Homo sapiens: one gene and its partners. The protein of the gene in region 1 purifies or fractionates together with the protein of each later gene. This does not show direct contact. Each region holds a gene or a part of one and is shown on either strand. Other genes may lie near its edges.

Evidence for each region. Proteins that work in one complex are often made in the same cells at the same time.
Region 2: the proteins of DOCK1 (region 1) and POMGNT2 purify together in Homo sapiens (co-immunoprecipitation; one large-scale study listed by IntAct). This does not show direct contact.
Region 3: the proteins of DOCK1 (region 1) and CHN1 purify together in Homo sapiens (affinity purification with mass spectrometry, with the first as the bait; one large-scale study listed by BioGRID). This does not show direct contact.
Region 4: the proteins of DOCK1 (region 1) and ACVR1 purify together in Homo sapiens (co-immunoprecipitation; one large-scale study listed by IntAct). This does not show direct contact.

Annotation. Positions count from the first base shown.
Region 1 is NC_000010.11:126,995,928-126,999,427, reverse strand, and holds part of DOCK1 (dedicator of cytokinesis protein 1), read right to left. Parts: intron 2,681-3,500; coding exon 2,545-2,680; intron 1,337-2,544; coding exon 1,179-1,336; intron 75-1,178; coding exon 1-74. UniProt on the Homo sapiens protein: Involved in cytoskeletal rearrangements required for phagocytosis of apoptotic cells and cell motility. Along with DOCK1, mediates CRK/CRKL regulation of epithelial and endothelial cell spreading and migration on type IV collagen.
Region 2 is NC_000003.12:43,099,580-43,103,079, forward strand, and holds part of POMGNT2 (protein O-linked-mannose beta-1,4-N-acetylglucosaminyltransferase 2), read right to left. Parts: intron 1-3,500. UniProt on the Homo sapiens protein: O-linked mannose beta-1,4-N-acetylglucosaminyltransferase that transfers UDP-N-acetyl-D-glucosamine to the 4-position of the mannose to generate N-acetyl-D-glucosamine-beta-1,4-O-D-mannosylprotein.
Region 3 is NC_000002.12:174,876,382-174,879,881, forward strand, and holds part of CHN1 (N-chimaerin), read right to left. Parts: intron 1,748-3,500; coding exon 1,459-1,747; intron 1-1,458. UniProt on the Homo sapiens protein: GTPase-activating protein for p21-rac and a phorbol ester receptor. Involved in the assembly of neuronal locomotor circuits as a direct effector of EPHA4 in axon guidance.
Region 4 is NC_000002.12:157,775,331-157,778,830, reverse strand, and holds part of ACVR1 (activin receptor type-1 precursor), read left to right. Parts: intron 1-488; coding exon 489-700; intron 701-3,500. UniProt on the Homo sapiens protein: Bone morphogenetic protein (BMP) type I receptor that is involved in a wide variety of biological processes, including bone, heart, cartilage, nervous, and reproductive system development and regulation.

The DNA of each region.
Region 1 (3,500 bases):
CGGCTCGCAAATTATGTAATCTGTCTATGTCTTTAGGTAATCCTGAACTGGACCAGCGAACCAGGTAGTTCTCACTTGAAAAATGGAGAAATAAAAGCAAGTTAATTTTCCAAATAACAGGGTACCAAATGTACATCCACATTGCTTCATAATTAATACCATGTACGTGCACTATACAGACAACTATTGAGTTTATAAATATCAAAAGTATCACATACAGCTACTCATCAATTAACATCCACAGCACAAAAACCTTGCCAAGTTTTAATGTGCAATGTCTTGGGTTGTCACTGTAATAGAACTACTTGCAAATGGTATTTCTAAGTTGGTTTTTTTTTTAAGAGCCTATTTGTTCATTTAGAATGACAATACTATAAAATTCAGCACAATGCATGTTTATTTCAAAACCTATGACAAACCAAATACATTGTAAAATAAAAACTGCATCCTATGTCAAGAGGAAACAAAGTCTTTATCAGAAGTGAGAATAAAATCCACTCGTATTTTTCTGTATCATTCATACACTAAGTTTTCAAATTTTGAATAATACAAGTGAAGATACTAGAGTTTTAACATATACACAGACACACACATAATTCATACATAGTTGAACCACATTGTTTCCATCTGGGCAAAGAGAAAGTTATACTGAAGGCTAAGCAGGAAAAAATAGACTTACAGTGTTTTCATTTAACAAATATTAACTGACAGTCTGTATGTGGCAGGCACCATTCTAAATGATGTATTCCAGCCAATCATCTTGCAGAAAAAACAAGACAAAACTCACAGAAATGGCATTCATAGAAACCAAATTTTGAAAAATGGAAATAGTGATATTTGAGGGACCAGGATATATAAAATCTTACGAAGACAACTTAGGAAACAAAGTATTACTTCAATCTTCAGCTACACTCTTAAGATACGGCCAGAGTGTACCTGCAACTGCTATAACTCTACGAGCAAATAGCAATCTACACGCAAGAAGGTTCACCCTGACCCAGAGCCCAACCTGGCTGCCATCACACTGTCTAAGACAGCTCTTGACTCGGCTGCTTGCTCGTGTCCAGCAGCCATTCATCCAAGGCCTCTCAGCATGAATGGGACGCTTCAGTGGTTCTGATCCCAAGTTCCTAACACTAACCAAAGAGGAAAGACGGCAGCCAAGAAATGTCACCCACCTGATGAATTTGGACTCCACAGGGTCATATAGAGACATGAGGACTTCAGCATCTTCTCCTATTTTACAAACCACATTTTTGAGGTTCACAAACAAGGCCAGAGAAGGGGTTGCAGCAAACTTGGCTTGTCTGTTAATATCTATGTTCTGCTTTTGAGACTGTGTATGGAAGGAAACAGAAAGTCAACCCCAGCAACACTCATCACTGACACTTGCTTTCTTTATTCCCTACAGAATAGAAAATTGTAATAACTCATTGGCATAACCCAGCAAAGGCCTTGGTGCAGTCACTTTCTTATCTCCCCTGCACATTCTTAAATCATGCATTCACACAACAGACAAAAAATTGTATCCTGTGCAACTGCTGTGCTGAGTATTTTCAGAGATACAAAACTTTCAGGTGTCCATCCAATAAATCAAAATAATGATTATATATGTGTAGTTATTTAATTTTTTGTTCCCTCATTAGACTAAACCCTCCAAGGACATCTGTCTCATGTATCATTATGTCTTCAACATTTGGTACACAGTAGATGCTCAGTAAGTACTTGTTGAATTAACAGATGATTCAATTAGTCAATTTCTGAGTATCTACTGTGTGTGTGTGTATATATATATACTGGTGGGAGGTGACTGGATCATGGGGTGGATTTTTCATGAATGGTTTAGCACCATCCTCTCAGTGCTGTCCTCATGATGGTGAGCTCTCACAAGATCTCGTCGTTTAAAAGTGTAGCGTGTAGCACCCCCCCGCACACCCTCTCTCTTCCTCCTGCTCTAGCCATGTGAAGTGTTGGCTCCCACTTCGCCTTCCACCATAATTATAAGATTCCTGAGGCCTCCCCAGAAGCAGAAGCCACTATCCTTCCTATACAGTCTGCAGAACCATGAACCAATTAAACCTCTTTTCTTTATAAATTACCCAGTCTCAGGCACTTCTTTATAGTAAGGCGAGAACAGGCTAATGCATACATGATACCATTAAAGATCATAGAAGACGAAAAGACAATAAGACATGTACTCTCTGCCCTCAATGAGCTTGGAATACATGACCTGCCTACCATTATCCGAGAGGAAATGCAGAATCAAGTCTTGTGTCTCATTTGACAGATGAGAACACAAAATCAACATCATTAGGATCCTGTCTCCTACGATGAAACACAATGCTGTCCGACCCCCTTTCATGTCATGGGTGACATCCTGTGCCACCAGGCTCCATTCCACTCATGACTGTAGGACACAAACTCTGCAGCTACTCCTTTTCAGGTTCTTTCTTAGTGACAATTTTGGGCTTGACTGATACTTTACTAATGTTGAAAACTTATTACTGAGAAAACGTGAATGGCATATGACAGAGTCAAACTTACTTTTTCCTCTTGTAACCTTTCCTCCACTTGTTTAGAAGCTATTTCATGAGCTCTGAAGAGACTAATCGTGCTAGTTAATTCTGGATCCAAAATATTCCCATCTTCATCTCTAACCACCAGGTCCAAATCTAGAATTCTAGAACAACAAGAATTTAGTAAGTTCACAGACATAGACCAAGGAGGCTGAATTTTCTAGCACAACTTCCACCACAGCAACTGGGCAGGTAAAAACAACCTAGAAACTCGGGCTTGCCCAAAATATTAGGAATATAAAATTCTTGGAGGCTGCTTTCTTTAGCTTAAAATGTGTCATCTTGGGAGAAGTAAAAAAAAAAAAAAAAAAAAAAATCCTCAATTTTTATTTCCATTGCAATCAACAGTGGCTTTGTCTTGCAAGGAGAAGTTTTACAGATCTACAAGGCCCAAGTGAAGTATGTATTACTAATTATTATGTAAAATATGAAAAGTTTTAAGGCATACTTTTTTTTTTTTTTTTTTTTTTTTTGAGACAGTCTCGTTCTTGTTGCCCATACTGGAGTGCAGTGGTGCGATCTCGGCTCACTGCAACCTCCATCTCCCGGGTTCAAGCAATTCTCCTGCCTCAGCCTCCCGAGTAGCTGGGGTTACAGGTGTGTGCCACCACACCCGGCTAATTTTTGTATTTTTAGTAGAGATGAGGTTTTGCCATGTTAGCCAGGCTGGTCTCAACTCCTGACCTCAGGTGATCTGCCCACCTCAGCCTCCCAAAGTGCTGGGATTACAGGCGTGAGCCACTGCACCCCACCTAAGGCATACTACATATGTACACACACACACACATTCACATATATATGCAATCACATATACATCCATCAACCCAAACACATAGCTGGCAGTTGTGACATCATCAGAGAGTTGAGGAAGGAGAGAGGGAAGAAAACTTGGAGGAGAGATCTATCCACCACCTTTTTACTCCC
Region 2 (3,500 bases), on another chromosome or scaffold:
GGGGAGCCCAGGCTGTGGGGCAGGCACAGAAGTGCCAGGGAAGGCAGGAGATAAAGCTGCCAGGAGACCTGGGTTTCAACAGTAGAGCCCTATGGGCTCAGGTGACTACTTGCAAAGCCTTCTGCAGGGTGACGCTTTATGGCAGCCAGGTCCCTGCCAGATACCCAGGGACCCTGAGATCCCACATCAGCAAGCAGAAGGAGGTGACAGAATTAGGCTGAGTTTTCCTTTGGTCTCATTACCACCATGTCACCCTCAACTCCTCCCTTTCCTAATAATAATGATATTATCATAGCTAAGATCTACTGGCCAATCACTAGGTGCCAGATTCTTCACTTTGCAATGATAATCTTTATTTTATAGATGGTAAAAATCAAAGCTCAGAAAGGTTAGAAAGCCAAGTTTACAGAGGAAGCAATGATAAGACTAACCCAGGTAGGCTGGCTACAGGGTCTGCGATCTCCTTCTTTTTATCTGGAAATAATTTTAAATTTACAAAAAAAGTTGCATGTATAGGACAAAGAACTCTCCTACACTCTTACCCAGATTCACCAACTGCTAATTTGACATCTTTGTTTAATCATTCTCTCTATATGCAGTCAGCCCTCTATATCTGCAGGTTCTGCATATGTGACTTCAACCAACTGTGGATCAAAAATATTCAAAAAAAACTTAAAAATACAAAAAAAGTATCAATTTAAAAACAATATAGTATAACAACTATTTACATAGCATTTACATTGTATTAGGTATTATAAAGAATTTAGAGATGACTTAAAGTATACAGGAGGATTGTGTAGGTTATATGCAAATAATGACACCATTTTATAACAGGCACTTGAGCATCCTTGGATTCTGGTATCTGTGGGGGATCCCGGAACAAGTCTCCCTGAGGAGGGCAACTGTATACAAATTCTCTCTCTTTTCTGAATCATTTGTAAATAAGTTGAAGAAATCAGGCCCCTTTAGCACTCAATACTTTAGCATGTATTTTCTAAGAATGAAAACATTCTCTCACACCACAAAAATTAACGAAATGAATATTGATACTATAATGACAATGATATTATTATTAACATATGGTTTCTATTTTCTGGTCCAGAATCCAGTCCAGGATGAAGCATGGTATCCAGTTATCACCGCTCTCTAGTCCCTTCCGATCTGGGGTAGCTTCTCAGTCTATCTTCAACTTATGATCTTGACAATTTTTAAGAGTCAGGGCCAGCTATTTTCTAGTATATTCCTCAATGTCTGATGTTTTCTCATGATTAGGTTCAGGTTATGCATTTTCGTGAGGAATTAGAGTCTGTACAATTAGTCATTAATACAACCCCACCCTATGTGAGTCTTTCTGGGACACTCACCTTGGGGCAGCCAGGATGAGGAAGGACTGAGAACCCCTATACTGTGTAGGATGCTAGAAGGAGTAGGGCCACTTTACTGGAGAAAAGAAGCCCCTGCACCCATGGTGTCTTCAAATACCTGAGTTGCTGCACAAGAGTGAGGCTGCTCCTGAGGAGTGGATGCAACCCCTTCTACCTGACTGGACACACATGCATGATGGTGACACGTGCAACCCAAGCCCTAGGCACAAGTGTGGACTATGGGCACATATGATTCCCATTCTGTCCTGCCCAGCACAGCTGTGCCAGCTGCTCAGGGACCTAGAGTAAGAACTGCAAAAAGAAGTCATGGGGAGGTGGAGCTCAGCATGGTCAGTTGGAGGAAGACTTTCCTAAAGACTAGAGCTGTTTGAGCATGGAGGAATCAGCTACTTTGTAGGGCAGTGAGCCCCTGCCTGGAAGTGGTCTAGCAAAAAACAAAAACAACCCATGTGGACTACTCCACAGCGGGGATAGGGCTGGCCATGGTGTCTTCCAAAGCAGGACTCAGTGGATCCGTGGACCTGTTGTAGCAGTATCACCTGGGATCTGAGAAATGCAGAATCCTGGGCCCCACTTCAGACCTGCAGAACCAGAATCTCTCTGAGATGAGGACCCAGGAACTTGTGTCTTAATAAAGCTTCCAGGTGATTCTTGCGTGTGCACAATACTGAGGGGAACTGCTCTGAGGTTCTTCTAACATTTCACAATTTTGCGATACTCAGCAAGGCATTTCTATCTAGCCCAGGTTAAACAACTAATTCAATTGAGAATAACCCTCCCCATAAGTATCAGTAAAGGCTAAATAAATTCTGTTCCTACCTTTTGCTAAGATGATGCATAAGCCTAAGCTCTGGGACAATCTGAGAAGTCCGCCAGACTCTAAGCTCCCTTTTGAGACAAGTTGCCCCAACCCATTCCTTCCCACACAAAGTGCACCATTTGTGGTGTGGGAGTGGCAAGAAACGAGTCCAGGTCTCTTGGCCACAGCTAAATGGACTAAGGATGGAGTCTGGGTCTAAAGCAGCCACCAGTAGAGGACATAGGGAGATGGCCATCCCTGCAGGCCAGCAGAGAGGAGGTAGGTCCCCCGAGAAAGAAGCCCCTGAACAGAGCAAATTTGGACAGCATCTCCAGTTCCTTACAATGGCTACTGTGTGACTCTCTTGGAAGCTCTGGGACCCAGCACAACTGTGGCAACTCCAGATGCCACTCCAGGATGTGCCATGATTCCTGCCACAAACCTCCACTGTCAAAGGACCCCGGGGTGTGTTTCATCACTGGGTGTGGCAATACAGCAGACCAGGTCCCCAGTCCCTTCCTAAGGCTTAGCTCAGGGCTGAGGAGCAACTACACAGCAAAGAAGGGGCCTTCTCTTAGCCTTTTCAGAATGGAGAAAACAGATAAATTTGTAGCATAAGCTTGTACCAATGGCAGTCACCACTGGCAGAGTGAAAGATCTGATTCTCTTAGAGGTGCTGGAGTATGTACCAGTGCAGACATGGGAAGCCAGAGAAAACAAAAGGACTTGTCCAGGTTAACTAAGAAAAAAAGGATGTTGGCCTCTGGGTAGGGGATAAAGATGAATGGTCTCACCATCTTACTTTACTGAGCACCTACTATGCGAGAGGCGCTGTCTTAAGCCTTTTTCCTGACCTATTTCATTTAAGCCTCACCCTCCAATGCAGTACCAATATTATCCCCATTTTCTTTTAACATGAGAAAACCAAGTTTTAGTGGAGTTAAGTACCTTGCTTAAGGTCTTAAAGCTCAAGAAGGGCCACCAGGATTTGAACCTGCCTCTCACTAAGGTCTTGTTCTTAGTACCGTGCTCATCTGTCATCAGACTTGGAGGAACACTCAATGGCAGATAAGCAGAGTAGACTGTAGAGCAGTGAGTTTTTATTAGTCAAGGGCAGAGCAGGTGTGGTGGCCCTGGAAATGTAGAACCACAGGCCCTGGACTGTAACTTAGCAACCCAAGGCTTCTTGCTGTAATTCCTCCCCACCCAGCCAGGCAGAGGGTACCCAGCTGTGACAGGTGGCTTAGGGAGCTGTGGCCATTCTCTCACCCTAAGGAGAGTCTAAGTAACATACTAGTGTGATAATTTATCCCATG
Region 3 (3,500 bases), on another chromosome or scaffold:
GCAAAGAATATAATGTCAGTATTATTCAAATACAAGCATTACTAAAAAATGCCATAAATGGAAAATCAACCAATAGTCAGAAAATGGGAACTAGACCATGAAAAGAATATTAAATACAGCAGGTATTAAGGATTTTAAGTTCTGGCTACTTCCAAACAAGATTTGTGGTTCCTAACAATATGAATATATAAAAAAACAATTTTTATACATTTTCTACAGCTTATCCTTTTAAATGTTGTTTTCTCCGTAGCAACAAAATGCCAATGTAAGATCTGCCAAAAACTAAAATTTGAGCTGGACACAAACTTTCTTATTTCCATTCTGTACCCAAATACTCTAAGGTAATGGGAAGTTATTTGAGGATGCTGCCTTGAGGTCAGATGGCTGCTATATAATAACATTACCACCAAACTACATTGAGTGTCTACATGTGCCAAGTGCTGATGGAGCATTTTACGCTTGCTATCTCACTCACTCCTCACAGCAATTTGACCATTATTACAATTTTACAAATAAGACAATCAAAAGCACAGACAAATTAGGTATTACAACTTGCACACAAATCTTGCATAGAATCCGAGCTCAAGACCTATTGCATTTCTTTGGTTTAGCAATTGAAGATTCTTAAAAACATAAAAATGAATTGACACAGTTCCAATTACAATACCTAAAATGCCCCCAACTAAATGTCACACACTATAAAACATCAGGAAAATCTCTTACTTTTTTCTTGGGGGTGAGGAGGAGGCTGGTGGCAATTTTCAAAAGTAAAATAATCTTAATGCCAAGAAATTAAAACTTTTATGTTAACCTGAAATATATCACAACTAAAATATGACAGCTAAAAAACTTAAATTGTCTTTTAGAATTAATTGTCTTTTATAATTAAGGAAAAGTAAAAGTGAATCTTACTCATTCAATTACTTCTTAACAGATTATAAAGAGATAAATCCTCCTCCTATTCAAGAATGACTGACTCCCAAAATGTGTGTGTATACATACACACACACATAATATACACACACACATAAAATCTTGCTAAGAACACAACTATTTATAAAGTAAATTATCTTTAAGGAAAACAAAAAAGTAATTTTGAGAGATAATGCAACCCCCTCAATTACTTACGTAATAGTAGCTATCTTTTCTTGACCAGGAGTTATGCTTCTGACCAATCCCCTGAACTATTTTTTATTAGGGGCCATTTTTCCAACATAGTTTTAAAATTGTGAAACTGATAAAACAGAAAACAACCAGGAATATAAAAATTTACCTAACATATTTTAATAGAACAAGAATTAGTTATATGCAAAGCTCAGCATCACAGAAACTAGACATTAAGAAAAATGAATATACTTTCCAAAGCACTGTGGATAAATCAATCTCTTCTGGCAATAATGGCTTTCTTAAAAGAACCCCAAACAGAAAAAGATAAAGTGTGGTTTCATAGTAGCTTACCCTTTTCTCTGACACCCCATCCTGGCCTGTAGAATCTCTCTCATCATGTGTCTCTTTCAGGACTGGCATATGTTTTTTGTATGCTGGCTCTCTGTTTAAGGTTGTGTATCCTACGTGCTCATAAATTGGGTTTATCGTCATCTTGGCAATGTATTCTGCTGCCTTGGTTTCAATATAGAGAGTAATCAAGCCATCAGTCACCAGATCGTGGATGGACTCAAAGCGTTTCTCCCCAACAAAGTGCTTGCCATCGTAGTAGAGCCTGAAGTTTCTGGTTTGACTTCCAAATCTGCCTCAATGAAATGGGAAAGATGTTTTTAAGAAAAGTAAGCAACTGAATTCTTTCTGAAAAAAAAACAAAAACAAAAAAAAACTATCGCTTTGTTTTGTGTGTGTCTTCTTTGTTTAAATAAGCTGTGGCTAATCTCTCTGAATCGTCTGGAATATATAAAATTAAACCTTTGAACACAAAGAATGAGCTTGCAATAATTAGGGACAACTAGTCAAAAGCATGCCTACCATAGAAATAATTTTTTTTATTTATCTTTTTAAACCACTTTATTATACCTGTGGAAAAAATGGGAGAAAATAAACCTCACACCACATTAAAACATAGTCAATATTCAATTGGCCAACTCCATAATAGATGACATTTCTATACTAACATTTTTTCTTCAAGTTGATCAATAAGAATATTCAATGTACTTTAGACCTCAGCAGTCATGTATTTTAATAGGAAAGCTCCATTTAGGGCTAACCAGAATATGATGCCAGCAATCACTTAAAGTAGAGCTGACTCCAGAAACCTGAGCCATGCAGGGCAGGATGGCACAGAAACACACTTTCGCTACTTCTGGCCACAGGCCAAGGACTTATTCTTTCGTTTTTAAAGAGTCATTATTCTGTCTGCTGGTTAGGTCTGTGCAAGAAATGTTTGAAATACATACGGCACAAAAGTCATAAGCTATTGGACTATAGAAATTCTGTTTTCAATTTTATGTTCTGATGATGTGCTCTAACAACTGAAGAATAATGGTTTACTTTTATGATAATTTCAGTATTTTGCTTCCTGCAGCAGACCTCAGAAATGGATCCAATTTGGCATGATTAACATCAGTGTCCTTGCAGGAAGACACAGGCAAGAAAATGCACTGACTTTAATGAAAGCAGATGTCAAAAGGCAACAAGGCAACAAGAGCTGCCAGTGTAATGGTCTCCTGAAGGTAACCCCGAGTGAGACTAATTAAAAACTAAACAAGTCACAAAGGATATATTTAATTTCATTGTTAAAAGTACAACAGAACAGGGATGAACTAAAATACTAAAATAAACGCTGTTTAAGTAAAGCGTTAAATGGGACTATAAACTTGTTATATAACAAAATTGTTCTGGTATAGGTTATATTCCAAATGAATAGGAGTTAGGAACATCTTAATGTGGAAATAAAGTATGGAAAGGAAATAAAATATTTTTTAAAATAATAGCCAGACGATGTCTGTTTCTGTAGTTCAAATTAGACTTTAATAACAATTTAATCTAGAATCCAACGTACTATCCATGTTGGCCCTTCTAAAGCATAATTTATCCATCCTTTAGTAACAATCAAATTTTGATTTACACTTAAGTGAACTATCCATATAATTACACTTTCTTGTTCTCCATTTTCCTCTAATGTTAAAGACACATTTCTCCCAAGTATATTTTCATTATAAAGCCTAAAAAATTAGACAGGTGAAATTTCTACACCAAAGTTAAATATAAAAGTTTTTCAGTTTAATATACTGCTTTCATCATTTCCTTTTTTTCTAATATACATTATCTGCAACATGGAAAGCAACTCCATAGCTTTTATAAGACTCCTACAATAATAAACACACATAGCATTGAGTCCCTTTATATTTCGGTTGTATCAGACACATTTCAATGAGGGCTCAGACCATTTTACTCCTGCTGGGACTTACGATTTTACAGTGGGCATTTCTACAGTGGATACAGAACTTAAAAACAATCCAAGCAATGGTGTCAGTCATTTAGTACTCAAT
Region 4 (3,500 bases), on another chromosome or scaffold:
AATGAATGGGTTCCTAGGCAGAAATTGTGATGTAAAAAAATCAGTGAGAAACCAGCAGTAGACACCCAGGATATATTAAAGACAGAGACCACAGATGGGTAATTTGGTTTTAGCTCAGGTAGCCCTTTCTCTTAAGGATAGTACAGTGTCTGTAAGGGCTTGATGGCGAAACATACCAAATCCAAGTTAATGAGAGTAATATCAAAGATTTGTACAGTACTTTATATTTTAAAAGCACTCTCACATTCATACATTAATGCAATTGATTCTCAGTGGAATTTTTTCAAATTCTAGTTGTGTCTAATTGAATGATGGTTAAAATGTCTGGGCCATTGGCCAGGCATTAGGAAGTGTTTTAGTTTTAATACTTCGTGAGTTGTGAGACTGTGTGGTCAGGATCAGGAGCTACTTGTTAGGATATTGGTTATGCTAATAATAAGTAAGCAGTGATCCTTACAACTAATTCCCCCTTTTCCCTCCAACTCCAGGAAAATCCTTCCCTGGAACACAGAATTTCCACTTGGAGGTTGGCCTCATTATTCTCTCTGTAGTGTTCGCAGTATGTCTTTTAGCCTGCCTGCTGGGAGTTGCTCTCCGAAAATTTAAAAGGCGCAACCAAGAACGCCTCAATCCCCGAGACGTGGAGTATGGCACTATCGAAGGGCTCATCACCACCAATGTTGGAGACAGCACTTTAGCAGTAAGTCATGACCCCACAGGAAATCCCAAGCATAAGGAAGGTGTCTGGAGACACGTTCTTATTTCGAGCATGAAACGCTAACCAGTAATGAGTGACTGAACAGTGTACACACATGCTGTTGGTTACTTATGTCCTAAACAAGCACATGCTGGCACCTGTGTAGTCTTCCCATATCAGAACAGCCATTTTAGATAGACATTTAAATAAGGGATGGGATTTATTTTAGTAGTGTTGGTAGTTAGTTACTTTTCTCTGAGGGGTAAAGCAAAAGAGACAGAGAATGGTTGCCTACAGTTTTGGAGGGTTGGAATTTGTGGTCTTCAGTTACTCTATTTTTAGCCATAAAAGTGCTCCTTTAAAAAGGCACCTTTTGCTGAATATTAAATATTAATTTCCTTTCTAGATTATTTCAGCATCCTGTAATTTAAGGCTTAAAAACTTGACATCCAAAAAAGCAGCTTTTAAATTTTGTATGCTCCTGTGGTGCCCTCTTGTGGAGTGCAGTCATTTGGTTAAACCGGTGTTGTCCAATAGAAACATGTGCATCACATGTAATTTAAAATTTTCAAGTAGCCACCTTAAAAACAAACACATGAAAAAACCCAAAAAGTTTCGTAAAAGTAGATTTAATTTTAACAGATATTCAACCAAATACATACCATCTTTGTCATTTCAACGTATAATCGATTAAAAAATTATTAATGTAAATTTTACATTCTTTTTGCTTTTGAAGTAAATTTTCAAAATCTTGTGTGTATTTTACACCTATAGCATATATCAATTCACACCAGCCACAGTTTACTTGCTCATGGCAATGTGTGGCTAGTGATTAACCCGCTGGACTGCACAGTGTTAGAAACTATTGTATTTATACATTAAAAAATTATTCTTTTGCATATTTTTAAATGATAAAATCACATTAAAAAATGACTATCTCCTTCTATTTACCTTTTAAAATTGCTTACCAAGTGTTCATTTTAAAGACGCTTTGAACTTTAAGTGGGGAAAGGGTATCACTTGCTCTAAATAGAAGGTTATCATAAAGTGCAAAAGAAAAAATAATAACATTCTGCATGGATATTATGCTGAGTCTGATGCCTACTCTGAAAAATTTGAGATTTGTGGGTGTTAAGTGAGTGCAAGAGACATGCCAATACCAATTTGAGACTCCTTGTCACAATCCGATTAATTGAAAGACAATCAAAGTAATAACTTTCTAATGTGATTCAGTTTTACTTAATGCCATTGCCCATGTGTATTTGAAATCATTTTGCAGTAAGTCTTGTTCTGCTAGACAGCAAGCTTCAAAGTGTCTGATAGTTCTGCAGTTACACTTGCCCTGCAGCTCCCCTTATGCTGGAGAAGACTTCCCCTCACCAGTGACCATCTGGGTAGCACAGATGCTACACCTGGACAATTGCAGGACCCACCTGTGGCAGGTTGTCACAGACATTTGGTAGTGCCTGATATGGGCTGGGAAACATCCCATTCTACTGCCTGCCCCATCCATCACTGGGCCACTTTTTGGTATGTAAAAGGGGGAAGTAACCTTCTGTAGCTTCCATTTACCTACTGTTTAAACTGTGGTACAGTGGAACTGGGGAAAGAGAATGCAGTATAAGGACATTTCATTTCAAAAAGTAGAGAAATACAATTTTTTTTGTTAGATATATACTTAGAAGTCTATTTCAAGCTTTAAGGAAAATTAAATGAGTTTATTGAGTTAGTAGCAAGAAGATGTGAGGATGAATCCTGACAAAGCTTTAGCAAAGCAAGATTCTAAAATAGGTTAGTTAGAACTTCATTCCTCAGAGCTGCTAACATAACTAATTACCAAGGGCAATAATAGGAATATCTGGTATAAATTACTGTTTAAATGGCTTTTAGAATTTTGAGAGAGGAATGGAGCATATGCCAAAATAGTCCTTTAAACTCAACCATGTCATGTGACAGTGTATCATGATATAATAACACAGTAAAGAACACTATTTAAAACAAGTTGTCATTATTGGTCTACATACTTGCTTATTTAAGCAATATGCTCATTTGTATGTTTCAACAAAGCATGCCCTTACTAAACAGCACGTCTACATTGAAAAACAAGCCTTGGCCATGCATGGTGGCTCATGCCTGCAGTCCCAGCACTTTGGGAGCCCAAGGGGGAAGATCACTTGAGACCAGGGGTTAGAGACCAGCCTGGGCAATATAGTGAAACTCTGTCTTGAACTAAAGAAAAGAAAAGAACAAAAAGAAGGCTTGGCATCTGAGAGTTGGGATATACGTTTGTTAGTCTTGGGTTGATTTTTTATTTTTCTTTCCTTAGGTCTGTGAACAGGGTTTAGAAGCAGGATCATACATTATGGAAAAAATAACACATTAGTTTAATTTTCAGAATTATTCTTCTCGAAAAAGAATGAATGAATAAGGAGCAAAAAGAACCGCAAGAGAGAAAATGGTTAGGGAGATATGAAACTCTGCTTCATCTACACTCATTTTCTTGTTGATTATCCCTTTTGTGGTTTTTAAGGGTTCTAAATTTCTTCCGTTGGATGCTCAGCTTTTGGTAATTTTGCCGATCAACAGTACTTCACAGTGGTGCTCAGAAGAAGTGAAAGAAGATGAAATTCACACAAATCAATGTATTGCTTTAGTAGGCCAGCCAAAATGTTTGGGAAAGGATGAGCTTTGGGGAATATTAAGTCAATATTACTGCAACTCTACCTTTATCACCCATCGGCACAATATTGTTTATTACAGATAATCTATGCCTGATACCTGCTTCTTGGCTTATGCTGAGAGT